Linked DNA regions of Homo sapiens: regions 2, 3, 4 and 5 are each linked to region 1. The links come from fine-mapping of genetic effects on gene expression. A gene starts in region 1. Each other region holds a variant in brackets. All regions are shown on one strand. Distances are from middle to middle. Region 1 holds the start of SNHG15 (small nucleolar RNA host gene 15). Region 2 holds the start of H2AZ2 (H2A.Z variant histone 2). Region 3 overlaps CCM2 (CCM2 scaffold protein). Region 4 overlaps RAMP3 (receptor activity modifying protein 3). Region 5 has its middle 3.2 kb from the start of TBRG4.

Evidence for each region. PIP is the estimated chance that this variant, and not a neighbour inherited with it, causes the effect.
Region 2: its variant is fine-mapped to the expression of SNHG15 in whole blood (TOPMed, PIP above 0.99).
Region 3: its variant is fine-mapped to the expression of SNHG15 in NK cells (Gilchrist 2021, PIP 0.90).
Region 4: its variant is fine-mapped to the expression of SNHG15 in fibroblasts (GTEx, PIP 0.94).
Region 5: its variant is fine-mapped to the expression of SNHG15 in monocytes (TOPMed, PIP above 0.99).

Annotation. Positions count from the first base shown.
Region 1 is chr7:44,984,065-44,989,168 of GRCh38, reverse strand. It overlaps SNHG15 (small nucleolar RNA host gene 15), which reads left to right and starts at 2,473. Exons shown (of 3, transcript NR_152597.1): 1 at 2,473-2,644. It overlaps SNORA9 (small nucleolar RNA, H/ACA box 9), which reads left to right and starts at 3,659; the gene lies at 3,659-3,791. RefSeq lists enhancers at 1,880-2,627, 2,663-2,782, 2,628-3,374 and a silencer at 3,901-4,081.
Region 2 is chr7:44,846,222-44,851,325 of GRCh38, reverse strand. It overlaps H2AZ2 (H2A.Z variant histone 2), which reads left to right and starts at 3,239. Exons shown (of 5, transcript NM_012412.5): 1 at 3,239-3,357. The coding sequence starts at 3,355. H2AZ2-DT (H2AZ2 divergent transcript) reads right to left here and starts at 2,855. Exons shown (of 2, transcript NR_187581.1): 1 at 2,805-2,855; 2 at 1,761-1,867. RefSeq lists silencers at 2,904-2,963, 3,224-3,613 and enhancers at 2,540-3,098, 3,099-3,656. The variant G/CG (reference allele first, on the strand shown) is at 3,087.
Region 3 is chr7:45,016,079-45,021,182 of GRCh38, reverse strand. All of the region lies in intron 1 of CCM2 (CCM2 scaffold protein), which reads right to left. Among named protein-coding and RNA genes, the nearest start is that of CCM2, 18 kb to the right of the region's middle. The variant AG/G (reference allele first, on the strand shown) is at 2,123.
Region 4 is chr7:45,171,890-45,176,993 of GRCh38, reverse strand. The region is part of intron 1 of RAMP3 (receptor activity modifying protein 3); the gene reads right to left. Among named protein-coding and RNA genes, the nearest start is that of RAMP3, 17 kb to the right of the region's middle. The variant G/A (reference allele first, on the strand shown) is at 3,139.
Region 5 is chr7:45,112,361-45,117,464 of GRCh38, reverse strand. No RefSeq gene overlaps it. Among named protein-coding and RNA genes, the nearest start is that of TBRG4, 3.2 kb to the right of the region's middle. The variant A/C (reference allele first, on the strand shown) is at 1,952.

The DNA.
Region 1 (5,104 bases):
TGCCTTTGTAGGAGTAACAAATTAGCCAAAAGATTAGAAATTATGATTTAGGAGTCATGCAGCTAGAGGCTACAGGATTCTGACCCTCCCCAAATTGCTCCCGGGAATAACATCACTGAAGTCTAAGATCAGTGCTTGAGATATTTTGCAGACCTCGCACTGGATGGATCAGCTGGCACCACCCAGATCGATAAACTGGCTCATCAGATCTTGTGGCCCCCACCCAGGAACTGACTCAAGCACAAGACAGCTTCAATTCCCTATGATTTCATCTCTGACCCGATCAATCAGCACTCCTGACTCACTGGATGCCACCCACCCTCCAAATTATCCTTAAAAACTGTGACCTCCAAATGCTTGGGGAGACTCATTTGAGTAATAAAAAAAGTCCCAGTTTCCCACACAGCTGGCTCTGCATGAATTATTCTTTCTCTATTGCAATTCACCTGTCTTGATAAATTGGTTCTGCCTAGGCAGCAGGCAAGGTGAACCTGTTGGGCCATTACAATCTCATAGCAGTGGCAGAATGGACAGACCAGTGAACCCTGTGCTAGGACAACCTGCACCAGGCCCTGGCTGTTGTAGGAGGTCCTTTTTTTTTTTTTTTTTTTTGAGATGGAGTTTCACTCTTGTTGTCCAGGCTAGAGTGCAATGGCGCGATCTCGGCTCACCGCAACCTCCGCCCCCTGGGTTCAAGCAATTCTCCTGCCTCAGCCTCCCAAGTAGCTGGGATTACAGGCAGGCACCACCACGCCCGGCTCATTTTGTATTTTTAGTAGAGACCGGGTTTCTCCATGTCAGTCAGGCTAGCCCCAAATTCCTGACCTCAGGTGATCCACCCGCCTCCCCGCCTCGGCCTCCCAAAGTGCTGGGATGACAGGCATAAGCCACCGCGCCCAGCCTGTTGTAGGAGGTCTTGAACAAACCACTTAACTTGTTTGGGTGGGGCTTAGTTTCCACGTTAGTAATCTGGAAGTAACAGTTCTGCCTTATCTGTCTGTTAGGGTTTTGACACTTAGTGAAGTATGGGATTTGTATACTGTAAAGTGATTGAATGTATTTACTAGGTGCAATACATAAAATACGAGTTTCAAGCACTGCTCTGCTTTTACTTATAGAACCACGTTCTCACTTTTCTAGCCTGATCATTCAAGACCCTTGAACACATCGTCCTTATCTCCCGCTCCTCATTGAGACCCTTCCAGAACACTACAAACTTGTAATACTTAGCTGTATCACCAGCAAACCATGTCCTTCCCAATTTCAGGACCTTTCAATGTGCTTTCCTCTGCCTGGGGGTGGGTGGGGGGTGGAGAGTAGTTTCCTCCCAACCCATGAAACCTCTCCACAAAGGTAGAAGAGACAGAAAACCATTACTGAATAAGTATTAAACCAGATTGTGATGCCGTACATCACATGCAACCTGCTAAAGGCAACACAAAGACAGAAACTCACTTTTTCTATGCAGCTAAGTAGAGATAGCCCATCACATTATGTAGGTTTTGCAATTTGGAGTCAGGTGCCAAGTTAAGCCTTTGTCCTCCTAAGAAGCTGGACTCTTGGCCCTTTCGTCCCTTAACAATTGCATTTTTTTCTTTCTTTGTTTTTGAGACAGAGTCTCGCTCTGTCTCCAGGCTGGAGTGCAGTGGTGCTATGTCGGCTCACTGCAACCTCCGCCTCCCGGGTTCAAGCGATTCTCCTGCCTCAGCCTCCCGAGTAGCTGGTACTACAGGCACGCTTCACCATGCCCAGCTAATTTTTGTATTTTTAGTAGGGACAGAGTTTCACCATGTTGGCCAGGATGGTCTCGATCTCTTGATCTTGTGATCCGCCCGCCTCAGCCTCCCAAAGTGCTGGGATTGCAGGCGTGAGCCACCGCACCCAGCCAACAATTACACTTCAAGGAGATGGCTCCCAAGAAACATTCCTGAGTTGAACCTGGCCATATAAGAAAAAGACTTGAGTACATTTGGAAAGGAGAGAGGCTGAAATTTTGAAAGAAAAAGGGAGGGGGATGGTTTCTCGTCCCTTCTTTTCCTCAGGGAAAATTAAACCCTATGTATAATTTGTATTTGCCCTTCCACCTGCATCACCTTTCCCACATGCTCCCACAGGCAGGCTCCTGTTCATTCCCAAGGCTCCGTGTCCACATCGTGCTTGGATTCCGCCCGGCCCCGCCTGTGCGGCCGCACCAGGAAGGCACCACCCATTAGGGGCTCAGCGCGTCCCTCCAGGCCACGCCGTCAGGCCTCCGTCCTTTTAGCTGTAGGGGCAGATTACGTAACTCCAGCCTTCTGGTCACTAAAGGAGGGTAACAAAGGGCGGTCGAGAGACTCCACTGAGTTGACACGCAGACGCAGCCTCAGGACCCTAAACTCTACGCCCCAGCACACCCTACCAAGCGAGCGCCCGCGGCCGCGTGACGTCATCTACCCCAAACGCTGTGGCCCCGGCCACGCACGGCTTCGGGGCGGGACTACGCGGTGACGTCGAGGTGCGCGGCGCAGCGCGCGGCGTCAGTCTTGGCTGGCAGACCTGTACTCCGTACTCCGTACTTCGTAGTCGCAGCGGCGCGGTCTTCGGCAGTCTAGTCATCCACCGCCATCCTGGGCCCCACGTGTTGCCTGACCATTCCTGAGCCCAGGTAGGGGTCCTGGGGGATTGGGTTCAGTGGCGGGCGGCGTGGGAGGCTGGGCCGCAGTGAGTGGGGGCACCAGTGATTCTTGGAGACCAAGCCTTCACTACACGTGCTACTTCCTCTCAAGAGGCGGTTGAGCGCGTTCGGAACATTTTACCCGGAGGAGACTCGGGGATTACTTGATGAGTAACCTCGTGCTTCTCTTTCAGCCGAGAAGTGGGGCTTCTGCATGACCTGGGTGGACCCCAGTAGGTGGGATGGGACGTGTGGTCAGGAGGGACCTCACCGGAAGGCATGGGGTGGCGTGTAGACCTGCCGCAAGAGAGGCTGTAGAGTGGGCCAGGCGTTGCAAGGAGCTAGAGCTGGATAATGGTTCAGAGGCACAAGCTGAAGCTAACTGCGTTTGGAGCTAACTGCATTTGTTCCCTTCTAGGTGGGAGCCGTGGCTGAGGTGACGGTCTCAAAGTGGAAGAGCTTACTGTCACAGCAACTCCTTTGCAAGATGCCCCGGTAAATCACGTTGCAGAGACCCCAACTCTGCCTTCCTGGAACTAGGCCTGCGTTTTCTCTGAACCATTATTTCATGGGGAAAATGAAATCTACTTCATGTGCCTGGTCTACTTACTCCTTCAGAAGTGATTTCTGAGCCGTAAGATACATGAGAAAAAAATGAAGGGGAAAAGGCAGTATTTATATTAACTACATGATGATAAGGATGTTTCTGGTCACAGTGAAAAGCCATGCTAGAATTGTAGTGTCATAGAATAATGTGGAAGTTTAGTTCGTGTTGTCTGATCTATTTAATAATTTAATAAGGTTATCTCTTCCAAGACACCTTCCCTTCTTCCTCAGCCAGAAAGGATCTTTCCCTGAGAGTCATTAGTAGCTCTGGGCTCCTGGAACCAAGCTCAGGTGCCTAATTGAACTCTGGTCTCTTCCCACAGCCCCCAGCAGGGACTGGTGCTTAGTGAGAGTGGACTGCCAGATTCCTTGAGTGTGGGGGATTTGGGTGAATGAGGGTAGCAAGCCTCCAGCGTGCTTGGGTCTGCGGTGACCCTATGCATTCCTTCAGTGCTTGCTAGAACAGTTTTGAAACGGTTTGAGGCCTTGCCCTGCTCCATCCAGAGCAAGGTTATAGAAATTTCAGACAATGACTTCCTCCCTCCTGGATCTAGTGTCCTGGGCCTTGTATAGATCCGTGCCATCTAATGTGGTAGCCACTTGGCACACATGATTAAATTAAATTTGGAGTTTTATTTCATTTTCACACTAGCCACATTTCAGATGATCAGTAGCCACAGGTGGCCAGTGGCTACCATATTGGACCGCACAGATTAGAGGGCATTTCTGTCGCTGTGGAAGTTGTTTTGGACAATGCTGGTGTGAAAGGTGAAGGGAATCCTGAGTGTTTGCTGTGCTCCAGGCTCAGTACAAATTTTATTTTATTATACACTTAAAGCAAAAGTCTTATAAAAGTTGAGGATGAAGCCAAGAGTGGTGGTAAGGGTAGGAGTTGAAACAGTGAAGAGGAATAACAGGGAAGAGTCCTGCCCTGAGAGACTCATGGAATAGGATATTTACAAGGCAAAGCAAAGAGAACCAAAGTCTCAGTTCTGCAGAGGAGCTGAGTGCCCCAGGAGCTAGTGGAGGGTGAGGTCAATGTGTGCTCATCTTAAAGGAAAAACTCATGGAAGAGGAAGGTGCTAATGTTGAACACCTATTTTGCGCCAGACCTCTTAATTGTTTTAAATCTTTGAGGTATCATCATGAGGTCGTTTTTAAGTTCAGTACAGATGAGGGGCCCAAGGTCAGAATTATGTGTCCAGGGTTGCCCAGCCACAAACCAGCAGATCAGGGTTTGATGCCAGGCCTCTCTAACCCTGCATCCTGAGTGGAATATAGAAGCCGGTGGGAAGTTTGGATGGGAAGGAGATGGATGCCTTCAAGTTCTTGTCTTGGTGTTAGGTGTGTTAAAGGACTGGCTGGGATGAGAAGAGTGTTGCTGGCTTGAGCATAGCACGAGCAGCACAGCTCCTGTGTTCCTCTGGGTGGTGGGGTCACCTCTCTTAAAGGTAGAGGCTTTCAGCTGATTCTGTCTTTTCAGGCCAGGAATAGTTGCTGAACACCCCAGGCCTGCTGAGGTCCCTCCTTGAGTCTCATGTTCAAGCAGTCTTGTGAGTAAAGCACTGGCTACCCCTTTTCACTTACTATCTTTTCAAGCATGTTCTACCACCTTGGAAGGTAAGAGGTTAGTACCTTCTTCCAGAGCAGAGGGCAGGCATTCTTGCTGTGCGTTGTGAAAGGGTAGAGTCCTGCGCTCCTTTCTTGTAGTAGTCCAATGGCTCATGCAGGTGCCTCTGACTCCCCTATGGGAACTGGGGCTTGGGAGGGTGGTGGAAAATGCTGATGCTCTGGCTATTGCTATTGTTTTGAATAATCAGTGGTCCCTTGTCCCTAATCGAGGAA
Region 2 (5,104 bases), 140 kb after region 1:
GTAGAGAGTGGTGAGAAAATGATTTTCCTGTTAAGGAAGGAAGTTAACATTTATTGGATATTATGTGCTAGGTACAGTGCTAGGTGCTTTCTCATACATTATTGGACACTTCTTTCAGCCCCCCTTCACAAGGGCAACTCTTCTTTTTTTTTTTTTTTTTGAGATGGAGTGGAGTCTTGCTCTGTCGCCCAGGCTGAAGTGCAGTGGCGCAATCTTAGCTCACTGCAGCCTCCGCTTCCCAGGCTCTCCTGGGCCCAGGTGATTTTCCTGCGTCAGCCTCCTGAGTAGCTGGGAATAACAGGCATGCGCCACCACGCCTGGCTAATTTTTGCATTTTTAGTAGAGACAGGGTTTTGCCATGTTGGCCAGGCTGGTCTCGAACTCCTGACCTCAGATGATCCACCCACCTTGGCCTCCCAAATTGCTGGGATTACAGGAGTGAGCCACCACGCCCAGCCTGCATGCTCTTTGTGGACCACCCACACCAGCTAAACTACATTCCCTGTTTCTCTCTTAAAGCACCCTGTTCTTTTCCTTCAGCACACTTGAACTTATTATAATTCACATATGGTATTTGTTTATTTCTTTAACATCTGACTCCCGCTGCAGAGGACCACAAGGGCAAGGACAATGTCTATTTTGCTAATCACCAAATCCTCAGTACCTAGCACAGTGCCTGCAAACAGTAGGCACTGAGTGATTTGTTAAAGGAATAACTCACAGGCTTATGCCTTGGTAGATTGGTAATGCCATCCACTGAGGCCAGAAACACAGAGGAGCAGGAATTAACAATGGCTATTTTTACTGAAGTAACTCCACTCTTCTACCTAGTTTTGAGGCTTCTATTAATCTGGGCACATTGCTCCATTCCTTCCTATTTCACTGGACACCCTTCCTCACACTTGTCTGTACCTTCATCCGTATTTTTCCAAATTCTTACTTAGAAGCTCACCCTCTTCCTCTTCTTGAATTTAAGTTACCTTTTTTTAAAGACTCACTTCCCCAAAGTTGCTTCTCCTGATTCAAACTTTGGAACAGCTATCATCAGCCTGGATATAAATTTCTAAAGTGCCAGCCTGGGAAAATCCTATGACAACAGAATCTCCACTAAGGCAGAAACTTGTTTTTTTCACTATTAACTCACCAACACCAAGAACACATTCTAGCACAGTCAATGCATCATACTGTGAAAAGAATGAAAGAATTTAAAGCTGGAATGAGTTGGAACAAATGTGAGCTGGTATCTTGGTTATCTACAGGCTATGCGGTCTCAGGCAAATGACTAAGTTCACCTAAGCCCATTTCTTCAGTTATGAAATGAAGCTGGCTCTCCCAGAAAGCTCATATTGTCCAGACTGTAATAGAGATGATCATGATAGGGTGATGGGCCTTTTTTAATTGTGGAAACAGGCCAGGCGCGGTGGCTCACGCCTGTAATCCCAGCACTTTAGGAGGCTGAGGCGAGAGGATCACTTGAGGTCAGGAGTTCAAGACCAGCCTGGCCAACATGGTGAAACCCTATTTCTACTAAAAATACAAAAACTAGCGGGGAATGGTGGTGGGAGCCTTTAGTCCCAGCTACCCAGGAGGCTGAGGCAGGAGAATCGCTTGAACTCAGGAGGCGGAGGTTGCAGTGAGCCCAGATCACACCACTGCACTCCATCCAGCCTGGGCAACAGAGTGAGACTTCATCTCAAAAAGTAAATAAATAAATAAATTGTGTTAACACTGTGGAAGAAAAACGATCGCTGGAGAGCCTGTGCACTCACATACATCCTTTAATTTTTACAACAGCTTCCGGGGGAAGGCGATTCCACTTTAGAGCTTTTCTTCCTTTCTAGCTGGGAGTTATCCTCCAAATTTTAACCTAATGATGTAAGCAAAATAAACACACTGAAGAGGTTGAGAAAAGAAAAACGGCTCACAACAGTCTGAGCTCTGTGAGGTCTGCAAAATGTATTAGGCCTAGAGGGACATGAGTATGGGACTTCGGTTATGCCCACCCTCTGCCCCCACATACACACATACCCAATCCCATGCATACCCAATTGTTTAAAGTCATTTCATTCCTGACTATCGGCCTCATCCATTACCTTTTTTTTTATTATTATTTTTTAGACAGGGTATATTCTGTCTCCCAAGCTGGAGTGCAGTGGTGCGATCATGACTCACTGCAGCCTCGACCTCCTGGGCTCAAGAGATCCTCCTGTCTCAGTCTTGACAGTAGGTGAGGCTACAGGTTCGCGCCACCAAGCCGGCCCCATTATCTTCGTGTTCTTAGAATTTGTAATACATGCCGGGCGCGGTGGCTCACGCCTGTAATCCCAGTACTTTGGGAGGCAAAGGGGGGCAGATCACCTGAGGTCAGGAGTTCGAGACCAGCCTGACCAACACGGAGAAACCCCGTCTCTATTAAAAATACAAAAGTTAGCTGGGCATTGGGGCGCGCGCCTGTAGTCCCAGGACTCCATCTCTAAAAAAGGAAAAAGAATTTGTCATACAAATAACAATATGTAGCCAATTGATAGCTTTTGTTTTTGTTTGTTTGTTTTGAGACGATGCGTCGCCCAGCTGGAGTGCAGTGGCGCGATCTCGGCTCACTGCAACCTCCGCCTCCGGGGTTCAAGCGATTCTCCCGCCTCAGCCTGCCGCGGACCTTGTCAGGGTCCGCGCTGAGAGGACGTCAGGGTAGTCAGTCCGCCAGAATACGGCTGAGCATGAGGCCTGCCTAACCTTGAAACCCAGCGCCCTCCTGATCCACACGTTCTAAGACGAATAAATCCTCACAGTCTGTGAAAACCCACCAGGAGAAGCACGTCCAACACTCTTTACCTCCCCAAACAAGTCTCAGAAGCGGGAAAACCAACGCCGCGAATGGGCGGGAAAGCCACAGCGCCTGCAATCGCTTCACCTTATTAGCTAATTTTGCTGTCCTTCCCAGTGGCCCGCCTCCCTTGCTCGCGGGCGATATTTTTATTGGCTTTCGTCTGCGAGGCGTCCAATCTCATTGGTTTGCCTTTCTGTTCGTCAGGCTTGGGCGCCTGGTGAAAGGCAGAGAGCGCGTCACTATTGGGGCTGGAGGCCCC[G/CG]CCTCCGCGTGCCGTGTGCAAAAACAAACAGCCGTTAGGAAGGCGGTGCCGGGGGGGCGGGGTCTGGCTAGAAGGAGGCGCGCGATTGAACAGCCGCTGGGGTTCGAACCAGCAAGACAAGCGGGCATTGGCCACAGCAGCGCGAGGCGGGCACGGGGTATTGTCCGGCTCCGGCGGCGGCGGTCGGTGCTGCGAGAGCGGCGGCGGCGGCGCGGGTCGGCAGCGGGAGGGCGCGCGGCCGAGCGGAGGCGGAGTCGGCGCCGAGAACATGGTAAGGGCGGCCGGGTGGGCCGGGGGCACGGGGCCTGGGAGAGCAGAGCGCGGAGGCCCTGGCGTCGGCGCCGCTACCTGTGGAGTCGGGAGTTTGCGGGTGTCTGGGCTTCGTCCGGCCGAGCCCCTCGCCGCCCGCCGGGGGGCGCCATGTCCCAGCTGCGGAGCCCGACACGGGTCCCCGGGTGAGAGCTGGGCCTGGCCGGGTAGAGCGCGAAGTCTGTTCCGAGCCGGATAGATCTGTCCCGACGCTTGTGACGCTGCACCGCCCGTCTTAGAAGGAGGAGGACGGCAGAATCCGGCTTGGAAATGTAGAAACAAGTGCTGGATCTTAATGTGATCGCTTCTCTGTATGAATGAGGTCAAACAGGCTGCCGCTGTACAAGTTAGATAAGTCTTTGGCGATGTTTGGTTACGTAATCTCCCTGGCAGTCAGTTTGAGGGTTTCTGCGAAAGGGTGCTTGTATTTGTGGTCTTTTGAGCGACAAAGAATGGTTTTATAGACCAGAACCACACGATTTGTTCTAGGTGATTGCACAGGTTAGAAATGAACGCCCGTTATCTTCTGAGCCCCTTGCAGTTTGCGGTTTTCATTATACAACAGTACTTTCCTTTGCCCTTGCTATGGATTTTCAGTCTTAAAGTATTCATCTTTTCATTCTGAAATTCAGATCTAGATAAGAAGAGTGTGGCTTTAAAAAAATGAAAGTGAATAGAACTTCAGCCCCATTTTAAAGTTGAGGGGAAAAGAGAAGGTGCTAAAGGATACGCTCTGAGTTGCATCAAAGATTGTGTAAAAATAATAAGACTGTTATGGAATCTTATTTTTGCCGGTATTCGTGCTTTAAGCATTCTGTTGAAAGGTTACTTCAACGGGAGCTACCTGCTTAAAAGTTAGCACCAAGCTGTCATTTATCATACTGCAGATAGTATTAGATGATTTGTCTTGTGCTTGATGTGACAGATATGGTATTGAATAGACATAACACCTAACTGTAAACAGATTGGCCAGTCGAGAGGACAATGTTTGGTTATTGTAAAATACCCAAATCTTAGAGCTGGAATAGACTTTAGGGATAATTGCTTCCAACGTCTAACGTATAGTTTATTGTTATTGTAAAAAACCCAAATCTTAGAGCTGGAATAGACTTTAGGGATAATTGCTTCCAACGTCTCACGTATAGTTTATTGTTATTGTAAAGTACTTTATAGTACTTTATCAAACTGAGGTACAGCTTACATCTAATCTGTAAAAGGATTTGCTCAAACAGATGATTTTCATGATTCTAGTTTTTTGTGGTTTTTTTTTTTTTTGGTTTTTTGTTGTTTGTTTTTTGTGGTTTTTTGTGGTTTTTTTTTTTGAGACGGAGTCTCACTCTGTTGCCAGGCTGGAGTGCAATGGGCGATCTTCACTCACTGCAACCTCCGCCTCCCGGGTTCAAGCGATGCTCCTGCCTCAGCCTCCCGAATAGCTACAGGCGTGCGCCACCACGCCCTGCTAATTTTTTGTATTTTTAGTAGAGATTGGGTTTCACCATGTTGGCCAGGATGGTCTCGATCTCTTGACCTTGTGATCCGCCCCCCTCGGCCTGACAAAGTGCTGGGATTACAGGCGTGAGCCACCGCGCACGGCCAATTCTAGTTTTTCAGATATTTTTCAATCTCTAGTGATACGCTATATGTTTTATATCCACTTACCAGTAGCTAAAAATACATAAGTATTAACATAAGCTAAAAATGCAGGAGAC
Region 3 (5,104 bases), 32 kb before region 1:
TAGGCTCAAGCCATCCTCCCACCTCAGCCTCATGAGTAGGCTGGGACTACAGGCATGTCGCCACACCTGGCTTTGGTGCAACAGCTTTAAATCCACCTGACCTCTGCCCTTCTGACACAGCACTCGATATTCTCGACCTCATGAGCACTAAGACCACCCTCAGACAGTGAGGGAGATTCAGGCAGGCAGTGACAGCTCCCCAGAAAGCTCTTTACACAGTGGGCACTAAGCAAGTGTTTGAAATAAATACCAAGGTAATAAGACTGTATTATTACTGCTAACACAGAAAAGCATACACAAACAGGAAAGCAACGTGAAAGACTAATAACAGTTGTTTCTAGTGGGTGTGATTTTTTTCATATAATATATTTTGCTACTTTCTTCTGAGATACAAATGTATTTTTTAGTAAGAAAACTTAACAAGTTCATTTTGGAAAATACTCAAAATTTTTAGCAAATACCACTTTCACCTAATAAAAACTGTTCTCTTGAGAGGTGGGTAAAGAAAAAAAGAATAAACCTTGGTTCTACCATACAAAACAATTTGTTAACATCTACTAAAATTACAAATGCACTTATGTTTCCCAGCAAGTGCATTTTCGGGAATTAATCCTACAGATGCATTACATACATGACAGGTTAGAAAATTAATTGCTTCATTATTTTTTAAGCAAAATGACAACCTAAAAGTCCATAGGAGGGCTGCTGTTTAAATACAGTAGCCCACAGATAAAAATGCCATTCCACCCTAAAGAAGAATAAAGAAACTATATATCTATAATGAAAGAGCTCCAAAACACACTGTCAAGAAAAAATAAACCCAAAGAAGTTCTTATTCCCTTAAGAGAGAAGTAGACTGTATCAAAATAACTTTCTCACAGACCGAGATTATGAACTCTAGATAAAATGTGAAAAACAATCTTCTAAAGACACTGGAGACAAACAAGAAATAAAAAAGAAGCTTGGAATTTATATGACCCTTGAAAGAAGGGAACATCACTGGGCAAGATCCACTTTTATATTGCTTTACTCCTGAGAGTATGCCCCAGTCTCAGAGGAGTGGAGCAGAGAAAAAAAAGCTGCAATTTTATTGGCCTGACAGGTTAAAGGAGGATTTGAGACTGCTAAAGAAGCTGGAAATTGAGAGGGAAATATAGGAAAGGAGGAACCCACTAAAAAAGGAACCCAAAGTCTGAGTATAAGGTCCCCTCAAATCTTTGGCTGAACCCTGAACTGCGTAAGCGGAGGTGAGACTCCCACAAGCCCAGAAAGGACACGATAGCTTGAAGGTTGAAGGAGCAAGCTGATGGCTGGGTGCGGGAGCTCATGCCTATAATCCCAGCACTTTGGGCGGCCAAGGCAGGAAGATCACTTGAGTTCAGGAGTTTGAAACCAGCCTGGGCAACATAGTGAGACCCCATTTCTACAAAAATAAAAATTAGCCAGATAGTGCATGCCTGTAGTCCTACCTACTTGGGAGGCTAAGGTAGGAGAATTGCTTGAGCCCAGAAGTTTAAGGTCACAGTAAACTATGATCACACCATTGCACTCTAACCTGGGTAACAGAGCAAGATCCGTCTCAAAAAAAAAGCTGAGATTTTAGCTCTCCCTAGCTGCAGGGTAGATAAGAGTTTGGAGTCCAAGTCCTGCCAAGTTAAAGGGGCTTAATCAGTACCTTAAACACTTGAGACTATCCATTTGAAACCCCACAAAGGCCACATCTTAGGAGTAAAACATACATTCCAGGACTAAGAAATTTACCCTAAGAGTAAGGACAAAGATCAAAACTGATCTACCAAACCAAAGTATAAAACCCAGCCAGGTGCGGTGGCTCATTCCTGTAATCCCAGGAGGCGGAAGCAGGAGGATGGCTTGAGGCCAGGAGTTCAAGACCAGCCTGAGCAACATACTGAGATTCCATCTATATTTAAAAAACTTTTTTCATTAGCCGGGCACAGTGGTGCATGCCTGTAGTCCCGGCTACTCAGGAGGCTGAGGCAGGAGAATCACTTGAACCCGGGAGGCGGAGGTTGCAAGGTTGCAGTGAGCCGAGATCACGCCACAGCACTCCAGCCTGGCCAACAGAGTGAGACCCTGTCTCAAAAAAAAAAAAAAAAAAAAA[AG/G]GCCAGGCGCAGTGGCTCACGCCTATAATCCCAACACTTTGGGAGGCCGAGGCAGGCAGATCATCTGAGGTCAGGAGTTCGAGACCAGCCTGGTCAACATGGCAAAACCACATTTCTATTAAAAATACAAAAATTAGCCTGGCATGGTGGTGCATGCCTGTAATCCCAGCTACTTGGGAGGCTGATGCAGGAGAATCACTTGAATCTGGGAGGCAGAGGTTGCAGTAAGCTGAGATTGCGCTACTGCACTCCAGCCTGGCGACAGAGTAAGACTCCATCTCAAAAAAAAAAAAAAGAAATTCTTAAAACTGTCAAATAAAAGACATTCAGTACAACAAAAATGACAGGTAACTTCTCAAGAGAAAAAATGGATGCCAGAAGATAATGAGTCTTCATCTTTAAAATGCCAAAAGAAGCTGGGCATGGTGGCTCACGCCTTGGGAGGCTCAGGCAGGCAGATCACTGGAGGTCAGGAGTTGAAGACCAGCCCCATCAACATGGTGAAACCCCATCTCTGCTAAAAATACAAAAAAAAATTAGCTGGGCGTGGTGGTATGTGCCTATAATCACAGCTACCCAGGAGGCTAAGGCAAAAGAATCACTTGAACCCAGGAGGTGGAGGTTGCAGTGAGCAAGATCACGCCACTGCACTCCAGCCTGGGTGACAAAGCGAGACTCTATCTCAAAATAAATAAATAAATAAATAATAAAAAATGCTGAAAGAAAACAGTCAACCTAGAATTCTATATCCTGTAAAACAGAGGTCCCCAGCCCCCAGGCCACAGACTGGTCTGGGTCCGTGGCCTGTTAGGAGCCAGGCCGCACACAGCAGGAGGTGAGTGGAGGGCCAGCAAGCATTACCACCTGAGCCCCGCCTCCTGTGAGATCAGTGGCTGCATTAGATTCTCATAAGAGTACAAACCCTGAACTGTGTGTTGGAGGGATCTAGGTTACGCACTCCTTAGAGAATCTAATGCCTGATGATCTGATATGGAAGTTTCATCCCAAAACCTTTTCCCCACTTTGGTCTATGGAAAAACTGTCTGCCACGAAACCGGTCCCTGGTGTCAAAAAGGTTGGGGACTGCTGCTGTAAAACTATCCTTCAAAAATGAAGATGAAATGAAGGTATTTTCAGATAATAAAAGGTGAAACAATGTGTCAGACCTACACCATGAAAAATTCTAAGCAAGGTCTTCAGGCTAAGAACTAAAAATAAAATCCTAAGCACTCCAACTGACTGAACAAAGCCTGTTTTGGTTCCAGCCATGACAAGATGCCTTGGGACGCACCTCATTATATTCCCTCCCTTTTGTAGTTCAGGCACAACTGACCAGCATTAATGTTAAAATAGAGACCACAAAACTGACAGAATGGACTCTGTGGCAATAAAATACCAAATTACATGCGTTCATGAAGATCATGGGGAAAAAAAGACACCAAATTATAAACAAGACCTACGACCGTGCCAGGTAAGGATTCAGCCACACAGTCTGACTCTTCAAGATCAACTCTGTTCTAACTGCCACAGGGTTCTTCTTTTTCTCTAGCAGCCAAACAAGCACTGTCCTGGATAAGCAATAGGAAAACAACTGCAACTCACCACCAGATGCCAACTGACCTCCTGTTCCACAAGCCAAAACTATAGCTGTGACTGTATAAGAGACTGACTTCAGTAACTCTCTCCTGACAAGAAGACCACCAGCCACAGACTGGTTCTAGCCAGTTTATAGAGGCTGTGCACTTGAGTGCCCTGTCTCCTTGCTTCACCTTTTGAGGTATGGGGCCTGAATATAATGTTGTCTCCACCTCAAAGTGAACATGGAATGCAAAGAACATGCCTGTCTGGAAAAAATAACTGTCAGATACTACGCTTAGTACCTGGGTGATGAAATAATCTATACACCAAATCCCCATGACAGATGTTTACCTATATAACAAACCTGCACATGTACCCCTGAACCTAAAAGTTCTTTTAAAAATGAATGTTTGGGCCAGATGCAGTGGCTCACGCCTGTAATCTCAGCACTTTGGGAGGCCGAGGCAGGTGGATCACGAGGTCAGGAGATCGAGACCATCCTGGCTAACATGGTGAAACCCTGTCGCTCCTAAAAATACAAAAAAAATTAGCCAAGCGAGGTGGCTCACGCCTGTAATCCTAGCACTTTGGAAGGCCGAGACAGTCAGATCACTTGAGGCCAGGAGTTAGAGATCAGCCTGGTCAACATGGTGAAACCCTGTCTCTACCAAAAATACAAAAATTAGCCAGGCGTGGTGGTAGGCGCCTGTAATCCCAGCTACTTGGGAGGCTGAGGCAGGAGAATCGCTTGAACCTGGGAGGCGGAGGTTGCAGTGAGCCAGGATCGCGCCACTGCACTCCAGCCTGGGCAACAGAGCAAGACTCCATCTCAAAAAAAAAAGATGCATGTTTGGGCCAGGCACAGTGGCTCATGCCTGTAATCCAGCACTTTGGGAGGCTGAGGCGGGTGGATCACCTGAGGTCAGGAGTTCAAGACCAGCCTGACCAATATAATGAAACCCCGTCTCTACTAAAAATACAAAAATTAGCCAGGCCTGGTGGCATGCGCCAGTAATCCCAGCTACTCAGGAGGCTGAGACAGGAGAATCGCTTGAACCCGGGAGGCAGAGGTTGCAGTGAGCCAAGATCGCGCCATTGCACTCCAGCCTGGGCAACAAGAGTGAAACTGTCTCAAAAAAAATAAATAAAATAAAATAAATTGCATGTCTGTTCAGTACACATGCATCAGGACCCCCTCCATGAATATTCATAACTCCTCCTATAACCTGTTGAATATGTATATACTTGGTCAGCACAAACCCATTCAGCACAAATTCCTGTTCCAACCCCTCCTCCTCTGAAGTGCCTACCTTTCAGGCTCTGCCAAAGGCTACGCTTCCCAGCCTGTGGGATGGCCAGCCTACAGGTTGCAACTCTTTGTAAGAAATAAAGTATCCTTTCCA
Region 4 (5,104 bases), 190 kb before region 1:
GGCAGATCAGGGCTGGCAAAGAGGCTCCAGTTCCAGCTTAGGAGTCCCAGGGGCCTGGGAACATCCTGAGGACTCTAAGACCTGGGGACCATCCCACTGCCTGCAGGGGCGGCAGAGGAGGGCTCCAGGCCAGTAAAGACCAACCCCTCCCGGTCAAAGACCCCCTCCAATTCTGGGAAACCAGGGGCTGAGGCCACTGCAGGGACTCATGTTCCCAGCAATGGGAATGAGTCCTTTGGACTTTCTCAGGGTCTGACACAAGCTGCTTGTCCCAGGATTTCCCCACTGCCCTTCCCAACCTCTGCCCACCAAAACATCCCCTCCCCTTCCTCCTCATGCCTTTGCTCCACACATTTCCCCATGGGGAACATCCTCCCTCCCACTGAGCAATGCCCCCTGTCCTTCAGGGCCTGTCTCCACGGTCATCCCATTTCCAGACGACAGGACCTCCCTGCTCCTAAACTTCCCTCACCTGACCTCTGCTTTGGTGCTCATCATATACTCAAGAGAGACCCCAGGCATATGTGTCTCGGGTGTGTGTGTGTGTGTGCACGCACAGCCCTGCTGTCTGTGTCTTGGTGTGTGTGTGTGTGTGTGTGTGTGTGTAGGTACACAGCCCTGCCATCTATATCTTAGTGCATATGTGTATGCATACATGAGCATGTGTGTACACAGCCCTGTCATCTGTGTTCCGGCGGCTGGTGCTGGGCTAGAGGAAATACCATGAAGAAGCAGATAAGAAAATGGTTCCAGATTGACATGGGACAGACCTGGCTCACACCCACACTTCACTGGTTACCAGCTCAACCTCAGTTTCCCCATCCGCAAGATGAGGGATACAGGCCCCACCTCACAAGGAGGTTGAGCTGGCTAACTTAGTCTGAAATGCTCAGTGCCACCTCCAGGAACGTATCATTCATTCATTCCCTCAATAAGTCTTGGCTGAATGATAGAGAAAGCAGTGAGCATTTCAGAGTCTGATCTTCTTCCATGTGTGGCTCACCCTGGGCACTGAGCAAGTGCTGAATAAGTCACTTTAATATGGAAATGGCAGGTTTAGACAGGACCACTTTCTGGTGCAGGGACCTGCTCCACCAGAACACAGCGCCCCAGACACTCCTCAAGAGTCATAGCCTGCTTAATGCTAACATTAGGGAAGACCCTGGAAGCCCCTTGGTTGAACAAGCGTCTGATGCCAGCAAAAGGGAGTGGCTTGTCTAAGGCCAAAGGAAGGCTGGAGGGGTCCAGATCCCAGGGTTAAGGGAACTGTCATGCTCAGCCCACCCCCACCTGCAGCAGAACACCTGGAGCACATACAGAGGACAGGTGTTAGCTGGAACCCCACAGAGGAGAACACAAAAGGGCTTGCCAGCTGTTCAGGGTCGTGGGTTCCCAGACTCAAGGCACCTTCTTCCCTTCGTGACTGCCCAAACCTATACCTCAGAATCCAGGCTGACAGCACTGAGAAGGGCCCCTGGGGGTCACAGCTGGTAAAGTTGGACAGAGGACTTGCAGGTCCCAGCAGGTGGTCTGAGAAGCCTGTGTAGGCACTCACATCTCCCCTTCTGTCCATGCAAGCTTCCCCAGGACCCAGGGCATCTTGAGGCCCCAGAGAACCCTGGAGATGGGAAGCACACAGGCTGTGGCTCAGTGGTCAGCCTGCTGCCATGTGTAAGCAGATGGCAAGGACACAGGCTGGGTGAAGTCACCACCATGGCCCCTGGACACAGGGTCAGTGACTGGCTCTCCCAGAACAGGTGTTTCAGGGCCTTCTGGCCACTCTGCATGGTTTCCAGCACCTGGAATGTCCCTGACCCCCACGTTCGCTTGTCTCATCAGCACAGCTGCAGGCCTGGATTCTCTGAAAGGCCACACATCCCACTTAGGGCCCCAACCCCTGAGTGAGCCTCTGGGGTGCTCACCTCTCTTCACAGAAAGGCCATGTGCTCATTCTGTGTCTGTCCCATCCCTGCATGTAGCACAGGTCCCCCACATGGTCCCACAGGGTCTGCACATGGAGATGGTGGCTCAGTACCCACTGTCAACCCAGTGAAATTTATCCAAAGATTTAGCAAAACATCCTGGACCACCGCTATCATGTGTTGCGGACTGTGTTGGATCCTTGGACAAGGGGAGAGGGAGAGGGTCTGGTTCCTGTCTTCAGGACCTGCCATCTGGGTTCCAGGGGGCAAGAGGAAGACACAGGGATCTCAGTCCAACTAGGGGAGTGACTGAAGATAGAGCATATAATAGATGGGGCAGAACCCAGGACAGAGTGTCAGGAAGTCTCACCAAGATGCACAGGCCATATAGGGGCTGCGCATACAGGCAGCCACAGTCAGAAGGAGACCTGAGCTCCGATGTCAGTGGCGGGAAGGGGACATGACCAGGGCTGCATCAGGACCACTGAAAGGGATGGTGCAGTGGCTATAGGGGGATAAAAAATGCACAGGCCCCATCGGGATCACCTAAGAGGACTTGAGCTGCCCGGGTAGCAGAAGGAGCGTGGAGCAAGATGGGTCCAGGTGCCCAAAGCAACATGGCTTCAGCAAATACCAGTCAATGGCCCAGAGATGGACCAAGAACAGCAGCCAGTGTGGGGACAGTGGCCAGCCGCACACATGAGGGCTTGCTGAGGCCATGGGAGTCAGGAGGTCCCTGAGGACCCAGCCTGTACTTTCCCTGGCCCTTAGGCCCCTGTCATCTGTCCCAGACATCACAGCAGACCCCAAGGGCACTATAACACCCACTACACAGATGGAGAGGCTGATGCCCAGAAAGGTTAAGTGTCTCCCAGGGTCACACAGCTTTGGGGTAGTCATCTGTGCATGCCGGGCCTGCTGTCTTCACCCACGGTACCCAAGACCCTCCTGGCTCACTCCTCCAGCCAAAGCACGGTGCTCCCCATCCTGTCTGCTCTCACTGGGCCTTGTCCATTTCCTCAGCTGGGAGTGCCCACTCCCATCTCCCTAGGAGGAAATCCACAGCCCCCACCAACACCCCCACCTCACCCCTCTCCTTGGCAACTGGGCCCCACTGCTCCCCTGCTGTCGAGGCTCTGCTATATGTGTCTGCCCTCCTCCCAGCTCAGGCCTGGTGTCAGGAGGTCCACAGCAGCATTTGCGCCATGAATGTGAG[G/A]ACCCCAGGATGGTAGCAGTTGAAGCAGTGTGAGCTGTGGGCAAAGCTGCTGACAGTCCCCAAGGGAAAGCAGGTGCCCTGGATGATCAGCCCTGCTCCTTGCAGTCCTCCCCACACTATCAGAAGTGGCAGAAGCCTACAGAGGCTACAGGGAAAGCTACAGCTTTCCCCAGTGGGCAGTCAGCTCCATGCTGGGGTTTCCTCCACTTCCCAAAGCCCATCAGGGCTCACTGGGCACTGGGAAACTTGGACGTAAAAACCACTGCCCACCACCTCCTGCTCAGCTGTCCACAGACACAGCTGGGACCTTCATAGGGAGAAGCCCACTTGGTCCCCACAGGCACCTCAAGGCATGTGTCCTTCCTTCCACAAAAGCAATATTAGAGAGGCCACATTTTTCACCCAAAATCCCAGTTTGTTAGCGGCAGCCTGGACAATAGCCCAGGGTCCTGACACCTGGGCACCACCCACAGCTTCTGATGGACACCGCTTGCAGCTATAGTGTGGATTTTGTAAAAGGCTTATACAAGCCTCACTATATCCTTGTAGAGAAGATAAGCGGACACACTTCCATGTCCAGTCATATGGCAGACGTCTGGACAAACTTTCTACTGAAAACAACTGAAAGCCTGGATAAAATATAAACCATACATTCATAAAATCATCAAGGAGCTGACAAGATGGCAAGAAATTATCAAGCTAAAGACTAGATGGAGTGGAACCCAGAGGGCCATGGATTTGTTGCCCTGGAGGCATCTTCCCAGCCTGGAAAACTGGGGGTGGATAAAGGCCAAGATGAGAAGTCTAATGAAAGGCCCCATAAACTGACATTCAGAGGTAGGTGAACCAGAAATAACTCTTCACCCTCGGCCAAGTAGGAGGAATGGGACCTGGCACTGAGCAGGGAGGGGGACCCCTCTCTGAGAAGTCATAAGCAAGGCTGACCTTCTTGTGGATTCACAGCCCAAATTCACATGACCTGGATGGACCCAGGGAAACCCCAAGTTTAAACTGATCATCATGGACAGGCCCCCGCAGGAGCAAATAAACCCAAACCCTCTCAGAAGGAGGCACCATCATTGCAGCCCTCAGAAAGCTGCCATAATTAACTTCCCAAGGAAAACAAGCAGCTCACAATCAAAAATCAACTAAGTATAACCTCAATAGAAAGACCCAACAAGGTGAAACCCTGTCTCTACTAAAAATACAAAAATTAGCCAGACAAGGAGGCGTGCACCTGTGGTCCCACCTACTCGGGAAGCTGAGGTATGAGAATCGCTTGAACCAAAGAGGCAGAGGTTGCAGTGAGCCAAGATCGTGCCACTGCACTCTAGCCTGGGTGACAAAGTGAGACTCTGTTGAAAGAAAAGAAAAGAAACTCAACAAGGGGGTACAGACTTCTGGGATGGTGGTATGAGAAGCTCATCCTAAGGGCACACATCAAATGAAGAAGGTTATTCAAGAAAATCTACCACATCTCGGGAAGAATAGTGAGAATCTGTGACATTTGAGCCACAACCTGTTCCCACTCCACACCCTACCTCTGGCTGTAGAGCCTGTACTCCAGTGGGTGCAACCACAAATGGAGGTTCTCTCTACCCCAGCTCCCAGTCCTGGGCTACAGTTTCACCCTGGGACAAGCAGGCATGTCCCTCCCAGCTCCAGGTTGCAGGAGGTCTCTTCTTTCTGGGCAGATGAGGCCTAGAGAACTGAGGCTCCCTGCCCCGCCCAGTCCCCACTTCTAAGGTGGAGGTTCTGCACCAGGCATGGCAGGCCAAGAGTACTGGGGCCCCAACCACCCCACCCCAGCTCACTGGTAGGGTGGAGGCTCCACAATGGGAGGAGCAAGCCAAAATCAGGAACTACAGTGTCCCTCATGGGTGCCTGCTTGTGGAGCAGAGATGTCATTCTGGTAGAAGCAGGCCATTGTCCTATCCCCCAGTCCAATACAGTGCCAGGTCCTGCC
Region 5 (5,104 bases), 130 kb before region 1:
GGTGCAAAAGACCCACCACTCTGAGTCCAGCTGGGACAGAGCCCCGGGCAGGCACAGAAGCAGGGGGAGGCCTGGGGCTGGTGGCAGAAGACCTGGACACTCACTCTCCATGTGTCCTTAGGCAAGTCCTGCCCTCCCTGGGCCTCAGTTTGCCACATAGATAGCAGGGTAGAACAGGCTGTGTATGGCCAGAGCAGGGAGCCAGGCTGACCTTAGACTAGCCTTTGGGTCTGATTCCTCCTCTTATGCAGGAATCTGAAGAGACATCGATTCCATCAGGCCCTGAAGAAGGGCCCTTCTCTGAGAAAGTCCCTCAACAGGTTTGTCAGGGGTCCCCAAGACCACCCCAAGGTTCTGTGACTCTCCAGAGGAACTCACAGGACTCAGTACACAGTCATACCCTTGGCTAAGACTTAAAGAAAAGGATACAGAGCAAAATCTGCAAAGGGGAAAGGTACATGAGGTGAAGTTGGAAGAAACCAGGCATGAGCTTCCAAGAGTTCTCTTCCAGCAGAAACAAGAGGGAGTCACTACTGGATTCCCTCAACAATTAGTTGTGATGACACGTGTACAATGCTGTCTACCAGGGAAGCTCATAGAGACTTGGTGCTCAGGGTTTTTATCAGGAGCTGGTGTCTGCCTAGCATACACCAAAATTCCAAACTCCCAGAAGAAAGGCAGGTGCTTAGCATGAGCCATGTTGTTGTACAAACAGTTTAGGTGCAGGGAAGACCCCTGCCCTTTATAGGAAGTTATTATCAGTATAAGAAACTGTTTGCCAGCCAAGTTTCCAGATGCCAGTCAGAAGGCAGCCTCAGGTGCTGTATCAGCTTCTGCACTCCAGAGCTCATATCAACTGTGGTTTGATTCCAACTGGAGGGAAGGTGAATAGACAGGAGCAGACAGAAACAGGGTGGTCAAGCATCCCAGTTTGCCTGGGACTTGAGGCGAGGAAGGGTAGGGGAGCTTCCCAAGACATGAGACTTTCTATGCTAAAACCAGCATGGCAAGTGGAGAAGTTTCAACATGTGTTTTGGAGGGGTCAAGTATTCAAACCACAACAGACGCTAACTACTTAGAGTTAGCACAGACCTCACAGGTTAAGGGCTCAGTCCCACAACACTGCCCTCACTTCAGGTGCCAGTCACAAGTAGTGGGTCCCAGACTATCCACACTTCTGTTTGACTTGGCTACAAAGCAAGGTTTCCCATGACCTGCTCTTCAGGTTTAGTAATTTGCTATAAGAGCTCACAGAAGTCAGAGAAACATTTTATCTACTGCCTTATTCCATCTGGGCTGCTGGAACAAAATACCATAGACTGAGTAATTTATAAACCCTAGAAATGTATTGCTCACAGTTCTGGAGATTGGGAAGTCCAAGATCAAGACACCAGCAGCTTCAGTGTCTGGTAAGGGCTCTCTCCCTCATAGAAGGTAACTTCTTACTGTGTCCTCACATGGCAGAAGGAGAAAGGGACAAACATGCTCCCTCGGGCCTCTTTTATAAGGGCACTAATTCCATTCACGAGGGCTCCATCCTCTTGACCTAATTACCTCCCAAAGGCCCCACCTCTTAATATCAACACTTTGCAGATTAGACTTGAACATACACATTTCGGAGGGACACAATCAGATCATAACATCTATGTTTACTAGTTTATTACAAAGCATATTTTAAAGGATACAGATGAACATCTAGATTAAAAGGGTCTTAGGGGCCAGGCACGGTGGCTCACACCTGTAATCCCAGCACTTTGGGAGGCCGAGGCGGGCGGATCACGAGATGAGGAGATCAAGACCATCCTGGCTACCACGGTGAAACCCTGTCTCTACTAAAAATACAAAAAATTAGCCGGGCATGGTGGCGTGTGCCTATAGTCCCAGCTACTCGGGAGGCTGAGGCAGGAGAACGGCATGAACCCAGGAAGCGGAGCTTGCAGTGAGCCGAGAT[A/C]GCGCCACTGCACTCCAGCCTGGGCGACAGAGCGAATCTCCATCTCAAAAAAAAAAAAAAAAAAAGTCTTAGGGCCAGGTTCCAAAGGAAACTGTTCCTCTAATCACAACACTTCTGGAAGAATCTCAAGCATCAGAGCTTCTGTTCCCATGGGGTTTGGGAGGTGACACCTTCCCAGCATGTGGATGCATTCACCAACTTGGAAGCTCTCTGAACCCCATTGTTTAATAAGTTTTTATGAAGTTTCATTACCTAGGTATAATTGATAAAATCATTGGCCATTAGTAATGACAGTCAAAAGAAATGTTTTTATATGAGGAATATGAGCTTCCTCTAAATTATCAGGCCCAAAAAAAGGCATGAGAAAGAGACAGCAGTCACATCTCACTTCCTCCCTCTTGCTGAATAATCATCTTTTGAAGCTGCTTGCTATGTGGACTCTAGACTGACTGCCCCCCAAGTAGCTATAAATTAACCTAACAATACTGCATGCTGCACAACATAACTCATACCCTATCATTCAACAATGTATAGCCATCACTAATCAATGTTATTTCTGTAAACCAATGAGAATTCCTGACAAACAACTTTTTATCTGCCCCATGCCTAGTCCCCTTTTTTACCTTTAAAAACCTGCTTGTAACAAAGGCTTAATGAAGCTCATATCCCAGGTTACTTGCATGTGAGTCTTCTGGGCAGCTGTCTTCATTTTGGTTCAAATGTAAACTCTCCACTTTTATTAATTTTGCCTCCGTTTCTTCTTTTAGATAAACTGTAATCAAATCAATCTCCAGCCTCTCTCCTCTCTCTGGAGGTTGAGAGGTGGGGCTAAAAGTTTCAGCCCTCTAATCACATGGTTGGTTTCTCTGATAACCAGCTCCCATCTTCCAAAAGCCACTTCATTAGTGGCATAAACTCAGGTATGGTTAAAAGGGGCTTATGATGAATAACAAAAGATGTCACTATCATTCAAGAAGTTACAAGTGTTTTACAAATGCCCATCAATGATAGCCTGGATAAAGAAAATGTGGTACATATACACCATGGACTACTATGCAACCATAAAAAGGAATGAGATCATGTCCTTTGCAGGGACACAGATGGCGCTGAAAGCCATTATCCTTGGCAAACTAACACAGGAACAGAAAACCAAACACTGCATGTTCTCACTTATAGGTGGGAGCTGAACAATGAGAACACATGGACACAGGGAGGGGTACAACACACACTGGGGTCTGTCCATGGGACAGGGGGAAGGGAGAGCACCAGGATAAGTAGCCAATGCATGCAGGGCTTAATACCTAGGTGATGAGTTGATAGGTGCAGCAAACCACCACGGCACACGTTTACCTATATAACAAACCTGCACGTCCTGCACATGTATCCTGGAACTTTAAATTAAATTAAAATACACATACACAAATGAAAAACATCAGGATAGCAATTAGCTGGGGTGGAGGGATAAGAAAGAAGAGGAAACTCTCAGAAAATTGCAACAATATTGGTAATATTCTATTTCTTAAGTGGAGTAATGGGTTCACGGGTTTCTTTTCATAATTCTGCTTTGTAACTTGAGCATATTTAAATTTATATATACACTATATATATTATGTATATGTAGCAAACATTTTATAAATACAAATGATATTATCTTTATAAAATGCCTTAATGAAAACCTAAAGAAAAAAGTTACAAGGGTTTTAGAAGCTCTATGCAGAGACCACATATATATTTCTTAAGTCACAGGTGGCTTTTAGTATACTCAGTGTTGTGCAACCATCCCTATTATCCAATTCCAGGACACTTTTACCATCTCAAAAAGAAACCTCAAACCCATCAGAAGTCACTCCCTATTCTCCCCACCTCAACATCACATAGGTGACTCTATCAATTCACCTACTCTGGACATTGCAAATATAAATGGAACTATACAATATGTGGCCTCATGTGTCTAACTTCTTTCCCTTAGCATGTTTTCAAGGTTCTTTCCTCAACAAAACTCCATTAGTTTGTCTAAAGCTTTTCTTTTAACAGATCTATAAATCTGTTGTAATATTGTCTTTTGACAGACAACTTGTGAAGGATTTGGAGTAGAATTTGTGATAAATACATGGAATCTTAATTAACTGTTAACAGAAAAATCAAACTCTGTAAATTACTTAAAGAGGTTTATTCAGGGCCAATGAGTGACCACAGCCCCAGGAAAATACAAACCCAAAAAGCCTTAAGTGTTCCCGAGGCAGTCAGATTATAGTTTGGTTTTATACATTTCAGGGAGCCAGGGGTTACAGGCAAAGACATAAATCAATGTGTGGAAGGTATACACTGGTTTGGCTCCAAAAGACAGGATGTCTTGATGTGGGGGGTTTACAAGTTATATGTGGACTCAAATACATAGATATATACACGATATATGATTGATTGATAGATAGATAGATAGATCTCTTGGTAGGGGTAGATAGGGTCTCCCTATGTTGCCCAGGCTAGTCTTGAACTCTTGGCCTCAAGTGATCCTCCCACCTCAGCCAGCTTGACCAAGAGATTTTTTAATTTGCAACTGGTTAAAAGAGTGAGGCTCTGTGTAAAATTTGGAGTCAGCAGAAAAGAATGTTTAAGATAGTATGCCAGAATCAGCCACAATACACTGGGTCAAAAAAGACCTCTTCAGCAAGATTGATGGTCTGCAAGCTTGACTTAACCCTTGCCTTGCACGGCCTTAGGTCTTGTTTATAATTTGGTATCTTACTACCACAAAGTCTGTTAGTCTTATGATCTCTACTTTAACAAGGGGTGTTCAACCTCCCTTTCCAGAATGGCTGGGAACTCAGTTTTTAAGGTTTCTCTGGGGTCTCCTTGGCTAAGAGGAGGTCCGTTCAGTGCTTGGGGGGCTTACAATTTTATTTTTAGTTTACAAACACAAACAAACGTAATTATTTATTTTTATGTTTTTTGTTTTGTTTTTTGCGACAGAGTCTTGCTCTGTCAACCAGGCTGAGTGCAGTGGCAAGATCGCTGCTCACTGCAACCTCCACCTCCCGGATTCAAGCGATTCTCATGCCTCAGCCTCCCTAGTAGCTGGGACTACAGGTGCGCCCTACCACGCCCGGCTAATTTTTTTGTATTTTTAGTAGAGACGGGGTTTCGCCATGTTGG